2 separate regions of the Homo sapiens genome follow, and region 2 is linked to region 1. Evidence: fine-mapped QTL for protein levels in blood plasma. A gene starts in region 1. The other region holds a variant in brackets. All regions are shown on one strand. Distances are between the middles of the regions. Region 1 holds the start of CD109 (CD109 molecule). Region 2 overlaps CD109 (CD109 molecule).

Region 1 (16,613 bases):
TATCCAGGATTACCATACATGGACACGTCTAGCTGGATTGAGCCTAGAAATTTGCCTATTTTTGCTTTCCAGACTCTGGCAAAGGAATACACAGCACAGGAAAGGAATGGATAGCTTTTCAGTGGCCCATCTGCAGTGCTCCCTCGTAAGACAAGTTGGTAGTTACATAGAAAGTGTCTGAAAACCAAAAGTCCATTTAAATCCATGGCTTTGTTCTATTCTCTCTCTTTTTTACCCCAGTGATATTGAGGTGAAATTGACAAAATTTTATATATTTAAGGTATACAATGTGATATATGTGATGTTTGATATACATATACATTGTGGAATAATTACCACAGACAAGCTAATTATAATATCCATCACCTTACAGTTACCATTTGTGTGTGTGTGTGTGTGTGTGTGTGTGTGTGTGTGTATGTGGTGAGACATTTAAGATCCACTCTTTAAGCATATTTCAAGAATACAATATGGTATTATTGTATTAGTCTGTTTTCACGCTGCTGATAAAGACACACCAAGACTGGGTAATTTATACAGGAAAAAGTGTTCCGTGTGACTGGGGAGGTCTCACAATCACGGTGGAAGGCAAGGAGAAACAAGTCATGTCTTACATGGATGGCAGCAGGCAAAGAGAGAGCTTGTGTAGGGAAACTTCCCCCACTTTTTTTTTTTTGAAATGGAGTTTCGCTTTTGTCACCCAGGCTGGAGTGCAATGGTACAATCTGGGCTCACTACAACTTCCGCCTTCTGGGTTCAAGTGATTCTCCTGTCTCAGACTCCTGAGTAGCTGGGATTACAGGTGCACACCACCACACCTGGCTAATTTTTATATTTTTAGTAGAGATGGGGTTTCACCATGTTGGCCAGGCTGAGGTCAAACTCCTGACCTCAGGTGATCTGCCCACCTTAGCCTCCCAAAGTGCTGGGATTACAGGTCTGAGCCACCGCACCTGGCTGGAAATTCCGATTTTAAAAACCATTAGATCTCATGAGACTTATTCACTATCATGAGAACAGCATGGGAAAGATCCCCCCTGCCATGATTCAATTACCTCCTACCAGGACTCTCCCACAACATGTGGGAATTCAAGATGAGGTATGGTTTGGGACACAGCAAAACCATATCATTCCACCCCGGCCCCTCCCAAATCTCATTTCAAAACCAGTCATGCCTTCCCAACAGTCCCCTAAAGTCTTAACTCACTTCAGCATTAACTCAAAAGTCCGCAGTCCCAAGTCTCATATGAGATGAAGCAAGTCCCTTCTGCCTCTGAACCTGTAAAATCAAAAGCAGGTTAGTTGCTTCCTAGATACAATGGAGGTACAGGCATTGGGTAAATACAGCCATTCCAAATTGGAGAAATTGGCCAAAACAAAGGGGCTACACGTCCCATGCAAGTCCAAAATCTAGTGGGGCAGTCAAATCTTAAAAGTTCAGAATGATTTCCTTTGACTCCATGTCTCACATCCAGGTCATGCTGATGAAAGAGGTGGGTTCCCATGGTCTTGGGCAGTTCCGCTCCTGTGGCTTTGCAGGGTACAGCCTTCCTCTTGGCTGCTTTCACTGGATGATGTTGAGTGTCTGCAGCTTTTCCAGGCACACAGTGCAAGCTGTGGGTGGATCTACCATTCTGGGGTCTGGAGGACGTGGCCCTCTTCTCACAGCTCCACTAGGCAGTGACCCAGTAGGGAATCTGTGTGGGGGCTCCCATCCCCCATTTCCCTTCAGAGGTTCTTGCCCTAGCAGAGGTTCTCCATGAGGACACTACCCCTACAGCAAACTTCTGCCTGGGCATCCAGGCATTTTTATACATCTTCTGAAATCTTTCCCAAGCCTTAATTCTTGACTTCTGTGCACCTGCAGGCTGAACACCACATGGAAGCTGCCAAGGCTGAGGCTTGCACCCTCTGAAACCACGGCCCGAGCTCTACATTGGCCCCTTTTAGCCACTGCTAGAGTGGCTGGGACACAGGGCACCAAGTCCCTAGGCTGCACACAGCACAGGGACCCTGGGCCCAGCCCATGAAATCACTTTTTCCTCCTAAGCTTCCAGGCCTGTGATGGGAGGGGCTGCTGCAAAGTTCTCTGACATGCCCTGGAGACATTTTCCCCATTGTCTTGGTGATTAACATTCAGCTCCTCATTACTTATGCAAATTTCTGCAGCTGGTTTGAATTTCTCCTCAGAAAATGGGATTTGCTTTTCTATTGCATTGTCAGGCTGCACATTTTCCAAACTTCTATGCTCTGTATCGCTTTTGAAACTGAAAGCCTTTAACAGCACCCAAGTCACCTCTTGAATGCTTTGCTGCTTAGAAATTTCTTCCACCAGATACCCTAAATCATCTCTCTCTAGTTCAAATTTCCAGAAATCTCTAGGGCAGGGACAAAATGCCACCAGTCTCTTTGCCAAAACATAACGAGAATCACCTTTGCTCCAGTTCCCAACAAGCTCCTCATCTCAGTCTGAGACCACCTCAGCCTGGATTTCATTGTGCATATCACTATCAATATTTTGGTCAAAGCCATTCAACAAGTCTCTAGGAAGTTCCAAACGTTCCCACATTTTCCTGTCTTCTTCTGAGCCCTCCAAACTGTTCTGACCTCTGCCTGTTACCCATTTCCAAAGTCACTTCAACATTTTTGGGTACCTTTTCAGCAGTGCCCACTCTACTGGTACCAATTTACTGTATTAGTCCGTTTTCACACTGCTGATAAAGACATACCCGAGACTGGGCAATTTACAAAAGAAAGAGGTTTAATGGACTTACAGTTCCATGTGGTTGGGGAAGCCTCATAATCATGGTGGAAGGCAAGGAGGAGCAAGTCACATCTTACATGGATGGCAGCAGGCAAAGAGAGAGAGCTTGTGCAGTGGAACTCCCATTTTTAAAACCACCAGATCTCATGAGATTTATTCACTATCATTAGAACAGCATGGGAAAGACCTGCTCCCATGATTCAATTACCTCCCACTAGGTTCCTCCCATGACACTTGGAAACTGTGGGAGTTACAATTCAAGATGAGATTTGGGTGGGGACACAGCCAAACCATATCACTATTTATCTGTTGATGGGCATTTAGATTGATATCATAGCTTGGCTATTGTGAACAATGGTGCAATGAACATGGGAGTATGGATCTCTCTTTGATACTAATTTCAGTTGTTTTTGATATATATTGAGAAATGTGATTGCTGGATCATACAGTAGTTCTATTTTTAATTTTTTGAGGAGCCTCTGTATTGTTTTCTCTTTTCTTTTGTCGTTCTTTCTTTTTTTTTTTTTTTTGAGACAGGGTCTTGCTCTGTCACCCAGGCTGGAGTGCAGTGATGCAGTCTTGGCTCATTGCAAGCTTGGCTTCTCAGGCTCAGATGATCCTCCCACTTCAATCTCCCAAGTAGCTGGGACTACAGCTGAGTGCCACCACTCCTGGCTAATTTTTGTATTTTTTTGGGGAGATGAGGTTTTGCCATGTTGTTCAGGCTGGTCTCAAAGTCCTGGGCTCAAGCGATTCACCTGCCTCAGCCTCCCAAAGTGCTGGGATTATGGGTGTGAGCCACTGCACCTGGCCAACTTTTGTCTTTTTTTGATGATATCCATTTTAACAGGTATAAGGTGATATCTCTTTGGTATTGATTTGCATTTCCCTGATGATTAGTGGTATTGAACATTTTTTCATGTACCTGTTGGCCATTTTATATGTCTTCTTTTGAGAAATGTTTACTCAATTCCTCCCCCTTCCCCTCTTTTTTAGAGACAGGATCTTACTCTGTCACCTGGGCTGGAGTGCAGTGGTACAATCATAGCTCACGGTAACCTCAAACTCCTGGGCTCAAGTGATCCTCTTGCCTCAGCCTCCTGAGTAGCTGGGACCACGCTACCATGTCTGGCTAGTCTTTTTAGTTTTATTTTTGGTACAGACAAAAGTCCTACTATTTTGCCTATGTGGTCTCAAATTCTTGCTTTGCCCATTTTTTTTTCTTTTTTTTTTTTTGAGGTGGAATCTCAAAAGGATGGAGTGTAGTGGCATGATCTTGGCTCACTGCAACCTCCACCTCCCAGGTTCAAGTGATTTTCCTGCCTCAGCCTCCCGAGTAGCTGGGACTACAGGCACAGCTAATTTTTGCATTTTTTAGTGGAGACGGGGTTTCACTGTGTTGGCCAGGATGGTCTTGATCTCTTGCCCTCATGATCCACCCGCCTCAGCCTCCCAAAGTGCTGGGATTATAGGCATGAGCCACTGTGCCTAGCCTGCTTTGTCCATTTCTTTATTGGGTTGTTTTCTTGTTATTGAGTAGTTTGAGTTCCTTATATATTCTGGATATAAGCCCCTTACTAACTAGATATATGGTTTGCAAATATTTTCTCCTATTCAATAGGTTGTCTGTTTACTCTGATGATTTTTTTTTCCAGAAGCTTTTTAGTTTGATGCAATCCCAGTTGTCTATTTTTGCTTTTGTTGCCTGTGCTTTTGGTGTTATATGCAAAAAAACATTGTCTAGATCAATGTTTGTGGATTTTGTATCATACAACATCAATGAATTTATTAGTTCTAACTTTTTTTTTGTATGGAATCCTTAGGGTTTAAAAAAATTAAACAATTTTTAAAAAATTTTATTTCAATAGTTTTTGGGGTACAGGCGGTTTTTGGTCACATGAATAAGTTCTTTAGTGGTGATAATTCTGAGATTTTGTCATACAAGCAGTGCACACACTGTATCCAATATGTAGTCTTTTATCCCTTACCCTCTGTTGTCCATCCCCTCAAGTCCCCAAAGTCCATTATATCATTCTTATCCCTTTGCATCCTCATAGCTTAGCTTTCACTTATAGGTGAAAACATACAGTATTTGGTTTTCCATTCCTGAGTTACATCAGGTTTCTGAAAATATATAAGATCATGTCATCTTTGCAAACAGAGACAATTTTACTATTTCCTTTCTGATTTGGATGTCTTTGTATTTCTTTTTCTTTGCTAATTGCTCTGGCTAGGACTTGTAGTACTATATGGAGTGAAGGTGATGAGAGTATGCATTCTTGTCTTATTCCTGATCTTAAAGGATAAGCTTTCAGCTTTTGACCATTTTGCATGATATTAGCTGTGGGCTTTTCTCTCTCTGTGCTATGCTGTGCTGAGTAGGCTTGGGAAAGGGGTAACTTGAGTAATGTGAAACTGTCTTTCCTACCTTCTTCAATGTGTCTTTTATTGTTTCTGTGCTCCAACTAGGTGCTGTAATCTCTCACCTGGAGTCCTCAGCACTGGTGAAGGTACTCTTGTGTGTGGATGGCTGTTCAAATTGATGTGTCTCTGAGGGGATGAGCCCTGGAAACTCCTATTCCAGCATCTTGTTGATGTCCTCTCTATTTTTCCTTGAAATTTATTTGTTGAAGGAATTGGATTATTTGTTTGATAGTGTTTTGCACAGTCTGAATTTTGCTAATACATCTGTGTGATGTTTAATACGTTCCTTCACATTTCCTTGCAAATTGGCATTTAAATCTAGAAATTTAATCAGATTCAGTTTAGAATTTTTGGCAAGACCACTTCTTAGGTGGTGCTTTGTTCTACTGGGCGGCATATAGTATCTGAATATCTCCCTTTGTGATATTAGCAGCCATTTATGATCACTGCTGAGTCTATACAATCCAATGTGGTAGCTATTAGCCACATGTGGCTACTTAAAAATATAAATTAAATTAAATTAAATTAAAAATTCAATTTCTCAGTTATATCAGTCCTCTCTCTTTCTTTCTTTTTTTGAGACAGAGTCTTTCTGTGTTGCCCAGGCTGGAATGTAGTGGCACAATCTCAGCTCACTGCAAACTCCGCCTCCCGGGTTCAAGTGATTCTTCTGCCTCAGCCTCCTGAGTAGCTGGGATTACAGGTGCCTGCTGCCATGCCCAGCTAATTTTTGTATTTTTAGTAGAGATGTGGTTTCACCATGTTGGCCAGGCTGGTGTTGAACTCCTGACCTCAAGTGATCCACCCGCCTGGGTCTCCCAAAGTGTTGGGATTATAGATGTGAGCCACTGCACCTGGCCTATCAGTCACATTTCAAATGCTAAATAAATTCATGTTGGTTATAGCTACTGTATAAGATACAGAACATTTCCATCATCACAGAAAGTTCTATTGGACAGCATTGGTCTAGATCTATTAATTCACAAAGAGTAGTGATATGGTGCTATTCTAACATTAATTTTACATTTATTAGTTGGAAAACTATAGAGAGAAATCCCTCATATCTACTATTTGGTTACCCAGTGATCAGTTCACGTAGGAAAGGCAGGATAAAGGTTAATTCTTTACCTTTAATGAGTTCATATTGCAGCATCCTCCAAAAGTGAATAACTAAAAAAAACCATGCATGATTTTAGACATTGGATACTCCTTCCTCCCTTCAGTCTTTCTTTCCTTCCTCTTTCTTTCTCTTTCTCCTCTCTCTCCTTCCTTCCTTCTTTCACATGCATGCTCTCTCTCTTCCCTTCTTCCTTTCCCCCTCCCCTTCCCTACCCTCCCCTCCCCTCTCCTTCCCTCTCCTCCCCTTCTTTCCTTCCTTCCTTGATAGGCTAATTGTCCTTCATGGAAACATTGTCTTGATGAACAGAACACAGCTTTTGGCAAATTTTGCTAACTGTCTGTGGTAGATTGAATTATTTGTCCCAATTTTCTCCCATCCATATCCTTTCCCACATAATTAAGTTTGCAGTTCCTCTAACCAAAAGGTGGAGTATTCTACCCATCCTTGACTTGGTCCTTGACCATGAAACTTGCTCTGGGCAACAGGATCTTCACAGATGTCAAGTAAACAGGGACCTAAAATGTGCTTGAGCAGTGGGGCTTGTTCTCTTGTGCTTCTACCATGACCGCAAGAAGGACGTGCTTTTCCCAGACTACTGTTCCAAGGAAAAGGAGAAACACAAAGTGGGAACTGCCTCAGCTGGCCTGCAAACTTGGGATCTGAAGCAAAAGTTTATTGTTGGTGTGATTTTGAGGTTGTTTCTTTGCTTATTAATAGATTAATAAGTTTACAAATTGTCCCATTAGGTGAGAAACTCCCAACTGGCATTGGCAGATGTCATCTCAGATTAATGTATCTTCCCCAGATAGTACTTTGCTGTTCAAAATATAGTAATTAAAATCATGCACTAGAAGAACACTAGAAACTTTGTAAGAACTCAAATTAATTGTGATTTCTTTTTGTCTGGTAGATTTTTTTTGGAAAACATACCTTTGCTTTTACTATTTATGATAATATATTAGTATTTTAATTTCTAATTGGCTGTTGTGCAATAAAAAATACACATATTGGTCTCTGCCCCCCAGTCCCTGGCACAGAGTTCTTAAAACTCTTGTAGTTTCCTGAGCAATAGGAGTGCTAGGAGAATCTTTCATTCTAATGTTTGGTTTCTGCTCTGGTTCTTGAAACAGAGTTCTTAATACTCTGTTAGATAGGGGTGCTAGGAGAATCTTTTGTTCTAATATTTGGTCTCTGCTCTGGTTCCTGACACAGAGCTCCAAAGACATTTGTAATTTCCTAAGTGTTAGCATCTGACACAGAGCTCCTAAATCCCTTGGAATTTTCTGTGCGATGAGAGAGTCTTTTGTACTAATGAGGTAACTCTTGGTAGGCTGCTGGATAGAGGCTGGTCACCAGAAAGACCAAGCTATGATTAGAAGCCTGGAACTTCTAGTGCACCCTCATCCTCTGGAGAGGGGAGAAGGGCTGGAAATGGCATTAATAATTATTTCTACTTGATGAAGCTTCCATAAAAATTCCTGGATTATAGGGTTCTGAGAGTTTTTCTTTGTTTTTTTTTTTTTTTTTTTTTTTTTTGAGACAGGGTCTCCTTCTGTCACTCAGGCTGGAGTGCAGCGGTGTAATCAAGCTCACTGCAGCCTCAATCTCCCAGACTCAAGTGATCTTCCTACCTCAGCTTCCTAAGTAGCTGGGACTACAGCCACGCACCACCACATCTGGCTAATTTTTTTGATTTTTAGTAGAGACAAGGTTTTGCTATGTTGCCCAGGCTGGTCTCGAACTCCTGAGCTCAAGCAGTACTCCTGCCTTGGCCTCCCAAAGTGCTGGGATTACAGGCATGAGCCACCAAGCCCAGCTGCTTCTGTTAATTAATTAATTAGTTTATAAATTATTCCATTGGGCGACATCTTTCAACTTCCAAACTAGAATTGGCAGAGGTCATTTATTATACCCTTTATTAATAAACTGGGAAACATAGTTTCCCTGAGTTCTGTGAGCTGCTCTAGCAAATTAACCAAACCCAAGGATGGGATTGTGGGAACCCCAATTTATAGCTGTTGGATCAGAAGCACAGGTCACAACCTGAGTTTGTGATTGGCATCTAAGGTTGGGGGCAGTCTTATGGGAAGGAACCCTCAACCTAGGGGATCTGCTGCTATTTCCAGGTAGTTTGTGTTGGGATTGAATTGACTTAGAGGATGCTCAGCTGAGTCTGCTGTAGAATCTGCCAGAGAATTGATTGCTTGGTCAGCATGGGAGAAGCTCTTCTATGCATTTTGGTGGCCAGTGTGTTATATTGAGTGTATAAAAGTGGGAAAACCACTTTGGTTCAGTTTTTCTTATATCCTTACACTACTTTATAGTCTTAATATGCTTATGACATATTTCTTGATCCAAGAAAACTGTAGACACATTTTTTTTTTTTACTTTATAAGGCTCTTAGTGTCTCAGTCAATGCTTTAATTCTTCATCCCTCTTTGACTTTGTAAGTTTTTGTCATCTGTGCTCTTTTCAAGTATTAACACCATTTACATTGTTTTGTAAACATTGTGTATTTCACATATTTCATCAAATCTAAGATACACCACTTACTTTAATACCAAGAAAGAAAATTTATTGTCAATTATTATTATGATACCATTGATTATAAGATCAGAAATGTTACAAATGTGAAAAACATATATTTTAGAAATGGTGAAACAGTGTAATTAAATCTTCTTTGTCAATTCTTTTATTCTGTTATAAATCAGTAAACCATACTTACATCAACACAACTAATTATTTTTCACTGCAAAGCCAACTAATGAATCATGATATATTCTTTTTTATTCAGTGTTTGCTTTTCCCTTGAATTTCTAAATTCCCTTCCTTTTTACTGCACTATTTTACTTTATCATAGTCTCAGTTTTCTTGTATTTCATTATGTACATCTATTCGATTAAGATCCCTTTTATTTCCCTTAAGAGCTTACTCCTGGAATTTTTCCTATTAGAAGTTCTCTCTTCATTTTTTTCTGGGGTTATATATACATTTCCCTTTTTCTTGGCTTATTTCACTTCGTTGCTAAATATGTCTTCCTAAAGTAACTTCCTAAAATGAATTTGTGAAAGGCGAAGTTTCTGAGCCATTCCATTTCTGAAAATGTTTTTATTCCTTTTGTTTGTTTTATTATGCAGGTGATAAACATTTTTTTTGTTTGTTTTTTTGAGACGGAGTTTCGCTCTTGTTGTCCAGGCTGGAGTGCAGTGGTGTGATCTCGGCTCACCGCAACCTCCGCCTCCCAGGTTCAAGAGATTCTCCTGCCTCAGCCTCCTGAGTAGCTGGGATTACAGGCATGTGCCACCACGCCTTGCTAATTTTGTATTTTTAGTAGATACGGGGTTTCTCCATGTTGGTCAGGCTGGTCTCAAACTCCTGACCTCAGGTGATCTGCCCGCCTCGGCCTCCCAAGTGCTGGGATTACAGGCGTGAGCCACCGTGCCCGGCTGCAGCTGATGAACATTTTATTTAAAAAAGGTTTGTAAAACATGAGGAAATGCTTATGATGGAATAATTAAATGGGAAAAGTAGGACACAAAGCACAAAGTTGTATTATATTTATAACATAATTACTCTTTAAAAAAGATACCAGCAAATTATGTGGAGAAAGAAAGAGAGGAAGGAAACACAACAAAATGAAATAATGCTTGTCTCTGGGTAGTGGTAAGACTGTAGCAGATTTTTTTTTCTCATCATCTTTCTACATTTTGTGTACTGAGCAGCTACTCTACCTGACCTCTCACCCCTTCTCCAGGGGAATAGATAGGGTCACCTTCATGTTTCTGCCGTGTTCCTCCCCTCTTCCCTTTCAGCCACCCACCTGCTCTCTGCTTTCCTGCTCTTCTCCCCGGCCACCAGAACCCACAGGCAATTAACACTTTCTGGACAAAGAAGGAGCCAAGGTTTTCCCCATCATTTTTCTAAAGGCAAAAGTGCATGGCTAGGGAGGGAGACTAGAAAGGCAACTAACTGCTCCCTGCCAGTCCTGGTCTCACCCCTTCCAATGTCCATCTGATTGGGGCCTGGACTCAGGTGGCCCCAGGAAAGCCTCCAGCTGGTGTTATGGACAGAGCAGACTATAAAGGGGAGGTGGGGTACCCCATACACCTGTATTTTTTACTTTCTGAAGCTTGGTTTAGAGTGCTAGGCAGTTGGGAACACTTGTCCATACTGTTACTAATGTGCCAGTTCACTTTGTGGGTTCAGGGCCACAGTCAGGCCTGTAGCTCCTTTAGTTCTCAGAGGCTCTCTTCCTTCAGTTTTTCTGAATTGTGGGCCAAATGTACATGAAGCTCTGGACAAAGGACACCAGCTTCTCCTGCAGGTTACTCATGACATGGAAGTTGGAGGTGGTAAGATGGACATGGGTTCCACTTCTCAATCAGTTTTTCTTTATTCTTACCCACATTTAGCTTTTCTCCCCTGGCTGACTCATAGTTATGTTATGCTGCACACCACACACAGGGGCAATGGTTTGCACAAACTGCCCTACCAGCTCCCATGATTGCTTAGGGTCTGTCTCACTCATAGTGGTTCTGCCTTTCTCATTGAATTACTCTGTTCTTGCATTGCTATAAAGTAACACCTGAGACTGGGTAACTTATAAAGAAAAGAAGTTTAATTGGCTCACAGTTCCACAGGCTATATAGGAAGCATGTCAGCATCTGCTTCTAGGGAGGCCTCAGGGAGCTTTTACTCATGGTCTCAACTTTAACATTGCCAAAGTATGGCAGAAGGGGCTGATGTATGGGCTCGTGGTATCTTACATGGCAGGAGAAGGACCAAAAGAGGTGGGGGGAGGTGCCACATACTTTTAAACAACCAGATCTCATGAAGATTCACTATCGCAAGAACAGCACCACGGGGGAAATCTGCCCCCATGATTCAATCACCTCCTACCAGGCCCCACCTCCGAAATTGGGGATTTGACATAAGATCTGGGCAGGGACACAGATCCAAACCATATCAACACCTTAAAGACAGCTCAGGAGGGACACAGGAACAGTGTGGGGTTCTTATCCAAGAGACCATTAGGTTTTCATGCAATAAGCATAGATGATATTTTTGGTATCAAAATTCAGAAGTTTTATGCAAAAGAGCTTCTAAGATGCCCCCTCAAAAACTATTTACTAAAATAATATTATTATTGTTTTCTTCTTAAAGGAGATATAATATATATTTATTGTAGGAAACTTGGCATATCCAGGTAATCACCAGGATACTGATAATAGCATTTTGGTGAATATCCTTCAAGTCTTTCTTCAGTGCATAGATCTGTAATGTCTATGTACACATAAATACACTTTATTTTTTATAAAAATAAAATGAAATTTAAATTCTGTTTTATAAAACAGACTTCCCCTCTGATATGGTTTGGCTGTGTCCCCACCCAAATCTCATCTTGAATTGCAGCTCTCATAATTCCCACATGTCACGGGAGGGACCCAGTGGGATGTAATTCAATTTTGGGGGTGGGTCTTTCCCATGCTTTTCTTGTGATAGTGAATAAATTTCACGAAATATGATGGTTTTATAAAGGGGAGTTCCCCTACATATGCTCTCTTGCCTGCCACCATGTAAGACTTGACTTTGCTCCACATTCGCCTTCCACCATAATTGTGAGGCCTCCCAGCCATGTGGAACTGTGAATCAATTAAATCTCTTTCCTTTATAAATTACCCAGTCTCAGGTATGTCTTTATTAGCAGGGTGAGAACAGACTAATATACCCTCCTTAATAACATATGAATATTTGTCTCTAGATGGTTAAACAAGCTCCAATTAAACAAATAGTTTTTAATTATTTCAGTATTCCATTGCATGGATATACTGTAATTTATTTAATCCTGTTTTTGTCTGTTTTGTGTTGCTATAAGGTAGTACCCAAGGCTGGGTAATTTATTAAAAAAAAAAGTTTACTTGGCTTACAATTCTGCAGGCTGTTCAAGAAGCATGACATTGGCATTTGCTTGGCTTCTGGTGAGGTCCTCAGGCTGCTTCCACTCATGTGGAAGGGGAAGGGGAGCTAGTGTGCAGAGATCCCATGGTGAGAGAGGAAACAAGAGAAGCAGGAGGTGCCAGGCTCTTTTTAACAACCAATTCTTGTGGGAACTGAGTACTCACTCACCCCCCGACCCCCAGGGAGGACATTCATCTATTCATGAGGATCCACCCACAGAACCCAAACATCTCACATTGTGCTCTACCTCCAACACTGGGGATCAAATTTCAGCATCAGCTTTGGGCGACAAACATCCAAATGACAGCAAACCCAATATCTTATTGTTACATGTTCAGACCATTTTCAGTTTTTCTTTTGAGACAGAGTCTTGCTCTGTCACCCAGACTGGAGTGCAGTGGCACCATCTTGGCTCACTGCAGCCTCCACCTCCTGGGTTCAAGTGATTGTCATGCCACAGCCTCCTGAGTAGCTTTTATTACAGGTATGTGCCACCATGCTGGGCTAATTTTTGTATTTTTAGTAGAGACAGGGTTTCACCATTTTGGCCAGGCTGGTCTTGAACTCCTGCCCTCAAGTGATTTGCCTTCCTCAGCCTCCCAAAATGTTGGGATTACAGGCATAAGCCACCATGCCCGGCCCATTTTCAGTGTTTCTTTTTTCTTTTCTTTCTTTTCTTTTCTTTTTTTTTTTGAGACGGAGTTTTGCTCTTGTTGCCCAGGCTGGAGAGCAATTCTGCGATCTCGGCTCACTGCAACCTCCAACGCCCAGGTTCAAGCAATTCTCTTGCCTCAGTCTCCTGAGTAGCTCGGATTACAGGCATGTGCCACCATCCACACTTGGCTAATTTTGTATTTTTAGTAGAGATGGGGTTTCACAATGTTGGTCAGGTTGGTCTCGAACTCGTGACCTTAGGTGATCCACCCGCCTCGGTCTCCCAAATTACTGGGATTACAGGTGTGAACCACCACGCCTGGCCTCATTTTCAGTTTTTCTTAATAAAAAATCCCACTTCTGAGATGAACATTTTTCATTAATCCTTTTAACACATTTTTATTGAATAGCTACTCTGTGCCAGGCATGTAATAGCCTCATCTCTATGCAAATCCATATGCCTAAATTTTTGCATGACTACGCCTTTCGACAAGTGTGTATTGTGGGAAGGAGGGCATAAACAGGAAGGTGGCATCACTTTAAAATCCACACAGATTTATACAATGTGGTTCTAAGACTTTCTGTAAGTCTTCTCGGGAGGCAACATTATCATCTAATCTTTTGCAGTCCCTCTTATGTTTGCCTACCTCTAGAATGAACCTGAATTTATTAATCCACCTTTATGAAGTGAAAGATTGAGAAGAATTTTCTGTGTTCTTAATTGCCTTTGCTCATCAAATTGCCCCCAAATTGCCCCCACTTGTAGAGTCTCCATGGCCTACTGTCTGCTAAAGTAAAGCAGAATCCCAGTCCTCGTTCCAGACCTGCCAAGTCAGAGTCTGTTTTCATGTGATTCTCACACACATTGGCATGTGAGAAGCACTGAGTTAGACCTTGGTGCTTGGCCCACCCTTGACCATGGTCCTCCTCTCTGAACAACGGAGGTGAGGAGACCAGTAGTAACAGCTGTGTCAGGAACAGGTCAGCACCCAGGGATCCACACAGACACTTTTGACCATTCCTAAGTCCTGCCTGCACAGGAAGTTGGCCACTAAAGATAGGCTGCCTGAAGGAAAGGACATAAGGACCTTTGCAAGCTGTTCAGCAGGGAGAAAAAGGGTGGAACAGGAAAGGGAGGAAAGCAAGTTTCTGGATTCCCCAAACCACAGTTTGTCTAGGTGCTACTTTCTCACTTTTCCTTATTTAGCACATAGCTTTGTCATGAGACATCTTTTTGCTGACCTCTTTTCCGTTTGCATTTTGCCCCATATTAGAATGCTACCATCTAAAACCGCTCCATGAATTAGAAAGTTTAAGTTGTCAGGGACTGAATGTGTCTGTTTTCCAACAGTTTCTGGCAGTTCCCTGCTTTTATGGTGTAGTCATGGTGAAACCTGAGTCATCTGAAGATGGTGGCAGTGCCAGAGAGCAGGAGAGAGGAGCTGCAAAGAAGCCAGACAGCGTTGGGCATCAATAACTCCTGGGCACCACCGGCCACTGGCCTTCATTCTGACAGGAGAGCCAACCCAACCCTAACTGTGTTCAGAGATTGCTCCAAGCTTTACAGTTCTACCAAATTCTTTCTGTAGCAAAAATATAAAGGCATCTTCTTAGGTAATTTTTTTTCAGGGTTCCAAGTAGCAACACCTAACGTCTGCAGTGCGAGTTCTCTTCTTCTTTTTTTTTTTAAGGTGATAAATCATAACATTTTCCTGGAAAGGAAAGCAGTAGACCTCATTTTTTGTTTTAAGGAAAAATAGTTTTTCTGTTTCCATTCATATACATTAAATAACTACCCAGGAAATACGCCCCGGTTTTGCGCGCGTGTGCGTGCGTGTGTGTGTGCGTGTGTGTGTGTGCCGTTTCTCTAAAATTCTGACTCATAGTCTGGAGGACAATGATTGACTTTTTTCCACTTCACATAGTTGCTATGAATTTCTCCTCACAAGGATGGGCCTGTTTACTCACCCTGGGCATCGTTGGTAGAGCGCTAGTGTAAACAGCCTGAGGAACCCGGTGGGCCGGGGAAGTGGGCGCGCTCTGTTCTCCGCGGCCAGCTGGGACGCCGGGCCAGGTGGGGCCGCCTGCGTTTAGCAACTGCTTTCTCACCCCCTGGATTTGCGATGTTTGCCACAGCAGCGAGAAGCGCCATTGTAATGGGGATGGGAGGGGTGGAGCCTCCAAGTCCTGTCTCAATTTAGATCTCTCACTCTGCTGTTAGGCGCGCCCATTTCAGATTACTAAACTCGAATTAAGAGGGAAAAAAAATCAGGGAGGAGGTGGCAAGCCACACCCCACGGTGCCCGCGAACTTCCCCGGCAGCGGACTGTAGCCCAGGCAGACGCCGTCGAGATGCAGGGCCCACCGCTCCTGACCGCCGCCCACCTCCTCTGCGTGTGCACCGCCGCGCTGGCCGTGGCTCCCGGGTAGGAACGTGGGCGCGCGGGGGGCGCGCGGGCGCGCGGGCCTGGGCCGCTCTGCGGCTCTGGGCCAGGGCTTCGGGGAGGTGGCGGCTGCTGTGCAGCAGCGGGTGGGAAATGCCCTCGCGGCTGCAGTCCCCAGCCTGGTACTGGCCTGGAGGTTTGACCATATGTAGCTTCAGCGTGGCTCTCCATGGGACAGTTAACTTTCTCCACTCATGAAGTTGTTTAAGCGTCTCCCCGGCCATAACAACTTTCTGAAGAGAGTCATTTTATTTTTAGTCCACATTGCCTCTGCCTTTTGCTTCTCAACTTTTTGCTCCCAGATTGCGATTCTTCTCTCAAAGACATGATATATTTTTTCTAACCAAGATGTCTCAACCTTAGCATTGCCAAAGTGTGGCGGAGGGGACTGATGTATGGGTTCAGGGGCAGACATTATAGGAAGAAAACAACAGCACCCAATAATGGCAAGCCCCATTCATTCCTAAAGATTTCTGTAGTTGAGCCCTAACCCCTAGTTATAGCAGAGAAAGTGCTGCTTTAGTGACTTCTTTTATGATTCGCTATACCTGGAATTTTCACCAGTTGTAGTTTATTTTCAAATGGTATATTTCAATCAATGGTATTGGTTAAATAATTTTTTACCCTCGTTGGGCAGCTACTCAAGGATAAAGGTTTGAATAAGAAACAGGCAAAATCTTAGTTAAAAAATAACAACAACAACAAGAAAATAATCACGCTGGGATAAGGTCCTCTGTAAAGGAGAAGCTTAGAGACTTTTGCTTTGCCAATAACTCCATTATGCCCCGGTGCAAGCCATTTACATCATGGTTCCTTCTGTGCGGTTCGTGGTTTATAAAATGGAAATAATAACACAGGCCTTCCTCTAGTAGTGATGCATGAATTACTGCATTAAAATTGATTTATGGGAATTATTGTTGTTTCAGTAGCATTTCAATTCAGTTGCCAAATAGAGCAGTGGGCAATGTTAACGGAAACAACTGCAATTGGCGCAGTATGGAGTGCCTATCGCACTAGGAAATCTGAGGGTCACAAAAGAAAGGAGATGTGAGGATAAGAAACTTTGTTTTTCCCTTGTTGGGAACTCTTTAGGCCTCGGTTTCTGGTGACAGCCCCAGGGATCATCAGGCCCGGAGGAAATGTGACTATTGGGGTGGAGCTTCTGGAACACTGCCCTTCACAGGTGACTGTGAAGGCGGAGCTGCTCAAGACAGCATCAAACCTCACTGTCTCTGTCCTGGAAGCAGAA
Region 2 (10,540 bases), 53 kb after region 1:
ACTGCTATTCCCCAATCCTTTTTCCCTAGCTTCTACACCTATTGCCTTTACTTGCTGCCAACTTGTATAGCTCTGAAATCTAAATGGAGGGCATTAAATGGCATATAAATCTAAATGGGGGGCATTCATTGGAATGAATGAGACATAAACACAATGGGATGGAAACAATTTTAAAAAGCAATGAGACTTAACTGTTTTATGTGATATAAATTGGTCATTTAGTATATAACATGTAAACCTTTATATTTTTCTATATTTATGTGACATATAAACATATAAGATATAATCAACTTTTTCTGTATCTAAAGGGGAAGATATGTAATATGAAATGCATGAAATTGTAGCTTATTCTAAGCATTGTTGCTGAGCCTTGAGTAGGTGGGACTCGTGTGTGAATTGACCTGTATGAATGAGAACAGTGCTGGAGGCACAATGGACTCTCAATATTTGCTTCATGGCCACCCTGCATCTTTATGGGTGTTTGTATGATGTGTTTACCAATATTATTCTTTTTAAGGTAGCAGAAGCTCTACCGAATGAATGTATGATGTGGTTTTAAAGAACATTTGAGGCAATATTATGAAAGGGGCTCATACTGTTAGAGAACAATGTAATGCATAACCATTAAAGTCATGGACAATTTTCAGTGAGGTCTTTGCTTATTTCCTTACTTATAACAGTGTAATAATAACCACTGTTATAAATGGCAGCCTAGAGCAGGATGTGATGAGTTCTAGGGGAAGTGGAATTCTTTATATCTGAGCTTGTAGAGAAAGTGGAAAGAGTAGGCATTTGTGAAACTTAGAAAATAGGGAAAAATTTGTGTGGGAGTAGGGAAAATGGAAGAGAACGTTATGTGTCTGGGGATTTGGGAGAAGTTGATGTTACTGGAGCATGTGGAGAATGATGGCGGTGTAGATTAGGAAGCACGTTGTGAGTTTAAAGTAGTTTGAATATTATTTTCAGTTCCCACTTAAATTCTTAAGAATCACTTTTTTTGGTCCATCCATCCATCGATCCTTCTATCCACCCACCCACCCACCAACCCAGTATGTGTTAAGGACTTTATGGCTGTGATGAATACAAAGAAGGTAAACATATGACCTCCATTTTCAAAGGTCATTGTCATGGTGACATGAACAATATGATAAAAATTAAATGACATAAGGGGGACAGACAAACACAGGGCAGTGCAATAGCAGAGGAATTGTAAGGTGTTCAGTCCAGCTTGGTGATAAAGAGGGTTTATTGTTAGCACAAGCACTGATGTTTTGGGGCCAGCTGCTCCTTCTGTCTCCCATGGTCTGCTCTGTTCTCCTTTCACTCTTCTGCCAACCTTTGAGGTGTTCTTCAGTTCTTCTGATTCCATTAGCTTAGCTAAATAACCATCATGCCCAGAATCTTTAAAGCAAGCCTCTGCACAGGTGGCTGGCAGCCTGTGGGTGGGCCGCCCTGGGTCAAGGTGTCCATTTTTGGTCCATTCAGATGCCACCTATGCACAATGACCAGCAAGAGCAGTTTTAGCTGGATAACAGGCGCTGAGGGATTAATTTGTTCATTGAATGGTGGACAGAATAAGTACCAGAAGAGAGGGGGATAGAATAGCAGAGGGAGACTTTGCAGAAGATGTGAGATTATACTTTGAAAGATTTATAGGATTTATCATGTTGTGGTTTGTGGACTTGGCTTGTCATATTGCTTTTATAGAAAACAAATGCTCTTAAGGAAATTTAGGTGCTTAAAAAATGAAAAGCATTTGCAGGATCTGGCCCTTGCCCAACTTTTCAGTCTTGTAAAGTGCCGCCCTTCCTCTTGAACTCTATGCTTTAGACATCTTATGTCCCTTAAGTTTCTTAAACTCACCGATCTGTCTCATTCTAGAGCCTTTCATCATGCTGTTCCCTCTGCTGAGAATGTTTTTTCTTCCTTATTCTCGCTACTTGCTTTTAACCTGCAGCCATTCTCTAAAGTGGCCTGGCTGTTCCAGACATTCCCATAGTACTGTGTGCTTCCCTTAATTCATTCATCTCACTTTTAATTAGTGGTCCATGATAGACAGTAGCCTTTGTAAAGCTGGTGACCTTCTGGTCTTGCTCACCTCTCTATTCCTGGGACCAAGTTCAGTGCTTTTGCATGTAAGTAGAAAGCAGTATTTTCTTAAAACGAATGTGTGAAAACTATATAGCAATAATTTGTCTTGAACCAAATGCAATTTTCCCTTTTGTATATTCTATAAAGCATCTTTATCTTTTTGAAGACAAGTATACTGATCAGGTACTTGTCATTTGAGGTATGTTAATTTGAGGCATTCAGCTAAGAAAAAATAAGCCCCTTAAAAAAAAGAGCCCTTTTAGAACCACCAGGGGTCAGTATAACCAAGGAAATGTTATGAGAAGCAACTGTGGCCTTGGTCTCTGGCTTTTGTTTTTCTTTGACTACTGCGCAGCATTAAAGGACTGTATATTTCTTGTTATTAAACCCCTTTTCTTTTAGTAGTGAATAATAACATAGAGGAAATGTATTTATTATTTAAATAGCCCACCATTAGAGACTATATTTTTACTTTTCGGTGGCAGTCACCATTCTCAATATAAAACTCAGGGAAGGAAAATATTTATTTTCAAGAAAGTATTGGCTGGGCGTGGTGGCTCACACCTGTAATCCCAGCACTTTGGGAAGCCGAGGCGGGCGGATCACGAGGTCAGGAGACCGAGACCATCTTGGCTAATACAGTGAAACCCCGTCTCTACTAAAAATACGAAAAATTAGCTGGGTGTGGTGGCGGGCGCCTGTAGTCCCAGCTACTCGGGAGGCTGAGGCAGGAGAATGGCGTGAACCTGGGAGGCGGAGCTTGCAGTGAGCCAAGATCATGCCACCGCTCTCCAGCCTGGGCGACAGAGTGATACTCTGGCTAAAAAAAAAGGAAGTATTTTTTAAATTTTTTAATTTGTAAGAGACAGGGTTGTCGTCTGTCACTCAGGCTAGAGTGAAGTGGCACAATCATAGTTCACTGCAGCCTCGAACTCCTGGGCTCAAGTGATCCTCCTGCCTCAGCCTCCTGAGTAGCAGGGACTACAGGTATGTGCCACTACGCCTGCCTAGTTAAAAAATTTTTTTTTCCTTTTCATAGAGACAGGGTCTTGTTATGTTGCCCAGGCTGATCTTGAGCTCCTGGACTCAAGCAATCCTTCTGCCTTGGCCTCACAAAGTGCTGGGATTACATGTGTGAGCCATCATACACAGCCTTTGGGAGAGTTTTGAAATTCCATTTTGTCTGTAGAAAAAATATGGAATGATATGAGTATTCCCACTGATGGACAATCTCTTTAAGAATTACCGGAGTTATCAGAGCTTTGATTTGTAATGACTATACAGGTAATCAGAAAGTGGTATTCTTCAGTTACCCTTTGTCCTAGGTCAGGAAAAGGATCCTTTAAGTAAAACATACTTGACGGCTCCTTGGCATTTCTCCACTTGTATTAATAACATGTTTGTTTGTAGAGTAAGAGTGAATAAGTCCTTTATGATACCGTGTTAACCTTTCTGGATTAATCTAAATTGTTTGCCCTTCAAGTATTGTATTGCTTTTCACCTTCAAGGTTTTTTATGATAGTAATGGTGAGTAATTATTTTGGTCTAGTATGATTTCTAGTTTTCTTTTCTTTCTTTCTTTTTTTTTTTTTTCGAGACAGAGTCTCGCTCTTTTGCCCAGGCCGTGGTGTGATCTCGGCTCACTGAAACCTCCACATCCCAGGTTCAAGCGATTCTCCTGCCTCAGCCTCCTGAGTAGCTGGGATTACAGGCATGCACCACCATGCCCAGCTAATTTTTGTATTTTTAGTAGAGACGGTTTCATCATGTTGGCCAGGGTGGTCTTGAACTCCAGACCTCAAGTGATGCACCCTACTCGGCCTCCCAAAGTGCTGGGATTACAGGCATGAGCCACTGTGCCTGGCCAAGAAAGGAAACAAATGTTTTGGGGGATTAGTTAAGTGATTTGCCCAATGTCCCACAACTTACCAAACTAGGATTAGAACTCAGGCCTTTTGACACCAAATCCAAGGTTCTCTCTACCCTGCCACCTTGGTTTTCCATCTTATGTTTTATCTCTGTCATTGTTCAGCATATGATGGTGGGACATCATAAGTTCTCAATATATACATAGACTTTTTTTTTTTTTACAATGCTAGTTTAATCAAATTGCAAAGAAACTCTTGATGATTATAATGTTTAAGACCTCTTAAAATCAGTAAAGTTTAGTAAGAGCCCTGGCTCTTTTTGTGCTACTTATACGTGTGCTTAATTGACACACATATTCTAGTGTGAATAGTTCTTTGCTACTTTGGGGATTGTACTTCTTCTCTTGAGAATGTGACCAAGTCTTCTACTTCTGCCATACTTTGATTGCCCTGCTCTTTTTCATCATTTCTTTGTCTAGAGCACCAAGCCCTCCTCTCAGAGGGCAGAGGTATATTTTAGCTGTAACATCTTTTCATAGAAGTGTGTTTTATAGGGCCGTTATACTTTAGGTACATTATAAGTTGAGTGTGGGAATATGTTCTGATTTAATAATTGACTTGAAAATACACCTTAGGAAGATAATGTGTTTTAAAAGTTA[G/C]ACATTCCTTTATTTTCATTTCTTTGCAATATAGTTCTCTAGGTACCTTATCTCTAGGTATGTTATCTCTTGATTGGTGTTGACAGTTTTCTCAAATAATTGCACATGGTTTTTTTGTTTTGTTTTGTTTTGTTTTTTGAGAAAGAGTCTCACTCTGTTGACCAGTCTGGAGTGCAGTGTGCAATCTCAGCTCATTGCAACCTCCACCTCCCAGGTTGAAGTGATTTTCCTGCCTCAGCCTCCTGAGTAGCTGGGATTACAGGTGTGCACCATCATGTTCAGCTAATTTTTGTATTTTTAGTAGAGATGGGGTTTCACCATGTTGGTCAGGCTGGGCTCGAACTCCTGACCTCAGGTGATTCACTTGCCTTGGGTTTCCAAAGTGCTAGGATTACAGGCATGAGCCACTGTGCCTGGCCTGCAAATGGTTTTTCCCTCCATTTTTTATTTTCTGTAGTAAAATACACATAACGTAAAATTTGCCATTGTAACCATTTTTAAGTGTACAGTTCAGTGGTATTAAGTACATTAATATTGTTGTGCATTCATCACCACCATCCATCTCTGTAACTCTTTTCATCTTGCAAAACTGAAAATCTACACCTATTAAACAATAACTCTCCATTCCCTCCCACCCCCCAGCCCCTGGCAGCCACTGTACATTCTATCTCTGTGGTGTTGATTAGTCTTATATCAGCAGAATCATACAGGATCTCTTTTTGAGACTGGCTTTTTTCTCTTAGCATAATGTTATTATGGCTCACCCATGTTGTAGCATATATCAGAATTTTCTCTCTTTTAAAGGCTGAATAATATTCCATTGTGTGAATATACCACATTTGGTTGCGAATGTTTTTGCATCTATGATTTAAAAATTATATTCGAGGTTATTAGAAGGTGATTTTAGGGGTTCTTTAAAAGAAAGGCTAATGTTGGTGTCTGAGAACCAGGCTTCTGGGAGCCAGGAGGCATCTGGCCAGAGCAGTGCAGCCTGCAGCCCAGAGCTCCAGGTCTTTGCGTGACCCACGCACTGGTGCTCATGTTCCTCCAAGAGCCCGAAAGAAGAGCCTGAGTCACTGAGAGATTCCTGGTCATTTGATGACGGCAGCCCTGTGCTGTCTTTCCTCATTGTCAGATGGAAGTCTCTTCTTCTTTCTAGAGTGGCTTAGGCATTTGAGTTTACCATAATGGCCACCTGAGGCTGCAGCTGGTTCTGAAACATCAGTGTGCCACAGAATCAATGGACTGGGAGCTTGTTTAAAGATGCATAGTCCAGGTCCCACCCCCAGATCACAATTTACTAATTTTGGCATGGGAGCTAGGAGTTTGAATTTTAAATAAGCACTCAAGGAAATTCTACTAGTTTTTTGAACCACATTTTGAGAAGTGCTCATAAATGCCCGCAGCTAGGCATCTTTAGAATCCATCTTTTCCATTGAGAGGCAGTGTTGGGCAGTGTTGGGCAGTCAACAAGGTATGGAACTGGGGACAGGCCATCTGATTTATTCTTTGAATTCCTCAGCAGTGCTACTTTCTGCTATTTACTTTACCTTTTTAGGTAATCAGCTCAGTAGAGCTCCCCAGCACCTTAGACATACTAAGTCAGAATTTCTGGGACAATGTATATCCTTTACAACAGCTTCTCTGATGCTTCAGATGCACAGCCAGCTTGGGAACCACTGAACTTGATAATCATCTTTTCTATCTGTCACTAACTACAATTTCGTAACCGTTGTCTCAATCTTAAGCCATTGTTAGAGGTGGGGAACAAGAAATAGCAAGCAGAAAACTCAACAGGGTTAAGGCTTGAAGTCACTCTTCTGGAGCCCTGTATAATGAAACGGGTTATCAAATTATTATGTAACTCAGAAGCAATCTGCATTGAGTTATTTCTTTGCATCTAACAGTTATATCTAGTTTCTCTTGAGTTACTTGTTTTTTCTAGATTAGGTGAGGGTTGCCAACACCTTACTGCTTTTTATAACCTTTCAGGATATTCCTTATTTTTTCTGGACTTGTTGTCCAGCCTCTGCCTGGGTCAGCTTGCTGCTTCTGTTAAGTATCTCTGGAGCCGTTTTTCTTTTGCAAAAGAGCACATCTTTGTTTGGACAGTTCTTGTCCCTAAAGCACTCTACCAGGAGCATCTGCTTAACCCGCCTGGCTTGTGACGACAACTTAACAGAAAGCATGGAGCAAAACTTTGACAGGTCAGAAAACAGTGGCATTCTCTCTGAAATGTGGTTGTGGCTTCCAAAATACTTTCACTAGTCTTTGCTTATAAGAAGAATGCTTTGTTTGGGAAGGATCTCAAACTCTTACTTCCTTGTTCAGTGAGAAAGGGAGGGAGGAGATGGTTTTAGAATATTGATTTCTTAGAGCATTATCTGGCAGAGCTCAGCACTTTCTCCTCCATTCTTCCAAAGGCCCCGATAAACACCTCTAGAATAGCATTTATTAATCAGTGTAGCGTTATTTTCGTTTTTTAAAAACTGTGGTAAGATATATATGTAAAATTTACCATTTTAACAATTTAAAAGTTAAGTAGCATCAGGTGCATTCACATTGTGGTGCAACCATCTGCCACCATCCATCTCCAGAACCTATTATTATCTTCAGATATTTAAAAAAATGTCTGCCTCATTTCTTAAACTGTGAACTCCTTGAAGACAGGAATTCTATTTTATTAATTTTCATATTTGTTCTGTCTAATATAATATCTGACCTGTTATGGGAACTCATTCATGCTTGTGGGATGAAAGAATGAGTGAATAGAGCTTCTTCTAGATGATTGCTGTTATTATCCTTTGTGATGTTCTTTGACTTCTAGTCTCACTCTGCTATATCATCTTGCAACTTAGTAGAAATATCTTTGTATATTTTCATTTTGAGAATATATATGGTTGCTGTATTTGATGAACCTGTGAGCTAATGGAAAACAGGACTTTTGGATTAATGCCCTGGACTTTCTCATTTTGAAAATTAAAAAAAATCTCAGGCAAGAGCTGAATATTCTAGTTTGTTATAAAGTCTAAAATAGACTTATAATTTTGGTGCCATATTATTCTTGTGTCTTTATTCAGCCATTTGATCTGCTAGTGCCAGTCCTTTGGCAGTGTGCATTTTAATTTCTAGGCCCCATATGCAAATTTTCATGAGGAGTTCTTTGTTTTGTTCTTTCTCTACAGAAGCCACCCTAGGAGGACCCCTCCTTTCAAATGTGTCTTCTGTACCCCTCTCTGAAGAGACATGTTTTTGGCATCAGTTAGAAAACTTTGGGGCCAGACTTTAGGATGTTGTGTTCATCAATGAAATGGAGGGTCTGAGTATGTAGCATCATCAGTACATAGGATAGGGACTCAGTGCTATAGATGATCTTAGAGGTCGCCTAGATCCATCTCCCCACTTTATGGAGGAAGAATCTGAGATAAGTGACGTGACCTGGTTAGGCTCACACAGTGTGTTGTGGGAGGGTCAGGACTAGCAACTAGTTTACTCATACTTTCAGTTCTGTAAAATTAAATTATTTAATATGTGCAGCAATTGCTGTTTTATTTATTTATTTATTTTTGAGACAGAGTCTTGCTCTGTCACCCAGGCTGGAGTGCAGTGGTGCTGTCTCAGCTTACTGCAACTTCTGCCTCCCAGGTTCAAGTGATTCTCCTGCCTTAGCCTCCTGAGTAGCTGGGATTTACAGGCATGTGCCACCATGGGCCTGGCTAATTTTTGTATTTTTAGTAGAGACAGGGTTTCACCATGTTGGCCAGGCTGGTCTTGAACTCTTGACCTCAGGTGATCCGCCCGCCCTGGCCTCCCAAAGTGCTGGGATTACAGGCATGAGTCATCATGCCTGGCCAGCAATTGCTGTTTTAATATGGCCTCCTTTTAAGGTTGAATTTAGATGTCAACAGGGCTTGCTGTATGCATTGGTGGAGAAGATACCTACTTCTTTTATATGACTTGTGGATGCCACGGGATCACCTTGTTTGCACGTTGGATTGTTCCCAACGTGTCCCAGATTCTGACCACAGCAGCCATGTGTTTAGATTGAAGATTTGAGTCCAGCATGTAGGTTACTTGGTTCATCTATTTAATATCCATTAATATACTATTAAGGATTAGGCTGCTGTCACCTCACAGCCTCTATAACCTTGGTCATATGAGGCTTACAAAGATTAATTTTTTGTTGTTTGTTTTTGAGACAGAGTCTCGCTGTGTCACCCAGGCTGGAGTGCAGTGGCACAATCTTGGCTTACTGTAACCTCCGCCTCCCAGGTTCAAGCGATTCACCTGCCTCAGCCTCCCGAGTAACTGGGATTACAGGCATCCACCACCACGCCTGGCTAAATTTTTGTATTTTTAGTAGAGACAAGGTTTCGCCACATTGGCCAGGCTGGTCTTGAACTTCTGACCTCAAGTGATCCGCCTGCCTCTGCCTTCCAAAGGGCTGGGATTATAGGCATAAGCCACTGTGCTCAGCCAAGAAGATTAATTTTAAAAATAACTGTTTACCTTTAGGTAGATTCACAGAAAGTTGCGAAGATAGCACAAAGCGGCCCTATATTATCTTAACGCAGTGCACCCAGTGGTTATATCTTATGTTATTATAGTACAATATAAAAAGCAAGAATTTGACGTTTGTGTGGTATGTGTGTATGGTTCTGTATGATGCTTTATTTTCAGTGGCATAGAGGGAGTTTTGGAAAATGATAACTCACTGGGCTCTGACCAGTGGTGGCAGCCCTGGGTGAGGGGGAAGGGGGCACTGAAATGAGTACCAAGTCCCTGGGTGGAGTGAGGAAAGGGAGAAAGAGCAAGAAATGGAGTTATTTTCCCTCAAGGGTAACTTTCCTATTCAGTACAAACCTGTAGCTATGCTGCTGCTTTTGCTCCCTTGCTTGAGATAGGTGCCCAAGAAAGGTGGTCATGTTACATGTCTTTAAAAACCATAGTTCCTTCTACTTTGAGTAGGAACAGAGAGGGTTAAATGGGTGATTTTTGTTTATTGTTTGTTTTTAAAGAGAATATGTTTCTAGTTAGTACTTTTTTTTTTTCAACACCAAGGAAACAAGTTTGTCCCTTGTACTGCATAATGTATTTGTACTGCAGATGGTAACACTGTTTTAGGAGTATGAATGTGCTTGTGATCCCTGGATACCTGGCCACTATTCTGCTAACTGGAGGCTTGTATGGTCTATGTCTTGGTCATTGGTTAGATCCATTATTCCCAAGTCCTGTCACTATGAGTGACTGTCAGGTATAGACCAGCTTCAGTTCTTCAGGTGTTTAGTTCCAGCCTTGATAAGAACCAGAATATTTGTAATCCTTTCTAATGAGAGAAGGGATCCAGGAACAAAACTGTCTCCTGGGGAGGTTCTGATTCCTCCCTCCTCACACTCAGTAGATTATCTTCCTTTCCACTTCACAGAGAACACAGTCATCAGATGGGAATTTCTTTCACTTTTTCTGCCAGATTTGCATGTGTTGCCTGTGCCCATCTCATGCTTATTCTCTTCTTTTTAGAGGAAAGGTCCTATTCTTCACATCTAAGACCAATATCCCGATTTCTGCCTTGGCTTCTTTCTTCCTCTACTTTGTCAGAAAACTTGCAGTGTTGACAGTCTCTTTCTTCTCAGTCTTCAAACTGGATCTCTTTCTGTCTTAGATCTTTTTATAAAATCTAATATGTTTAATTCTTTCTCATTGAAAAAACAAAAAATATAGAGAAGTACTGTACTTTAACTCTACTTCCTCTTCAGTGACTTCACATTCCCATTCTAGCCAGTCTTCTAAAAAAAAATGTCTGATCTCTCTGCCTCCATTTTCCCAACTCACTCCAGTTTGACTGAGATTTCTTTCTACTTGTTTGGATTCTTCTTCTTGGTCACTTTCGTCATTTACTCTCTATTACATATTGGCACATTG

What was found. PIP is the chance, under the fine-mapping model, that this variant and not a neighbour inherited with it causes the effect. Sun 2018 read protein levels with aptamers (SomaScan).
Region 2: its variant is fine-mapped to the plasma level of the CD109 protein (Sun 2018, PIP 0.95).

What each region holds. Positions count from the first base shown.
Region 1 is chr6:73,680,944-73,697,556 of GRCh38, forward strand. CD109 (CD109 molecule) reads left to right here and starts at 15,260. Exons shown (of 33, transcript NM_133493.5): 1 at 15,260-15,346; 2 at 16,457-16,613. The coding sequence starts at 15,273. It overlaps CD109-AS1 (CD109 antisense RNA 1), which reads right to left and starts at 15,188. Exons shown (of 2, transcript NR_110889.1): 1 at 14,889-15,188; 2 at 12,960-14,632. RefSeq lists enhancers at 14,890-15,149, 15,103-15,817 and a silencer at 15,380-15,429.
Region 2 is chr6:73,736,934-73,747,473 of GRCh38, forward strand. All of the region lies in intron 5 of CD109 (CD109 molecule), which reads left to right. Among named protein-coding and RNA genes, the nearest start is that of CD109, 46 kb to the left of the region's middle. The variant G/C (reference allele first, on the strand shown) is at 4,619.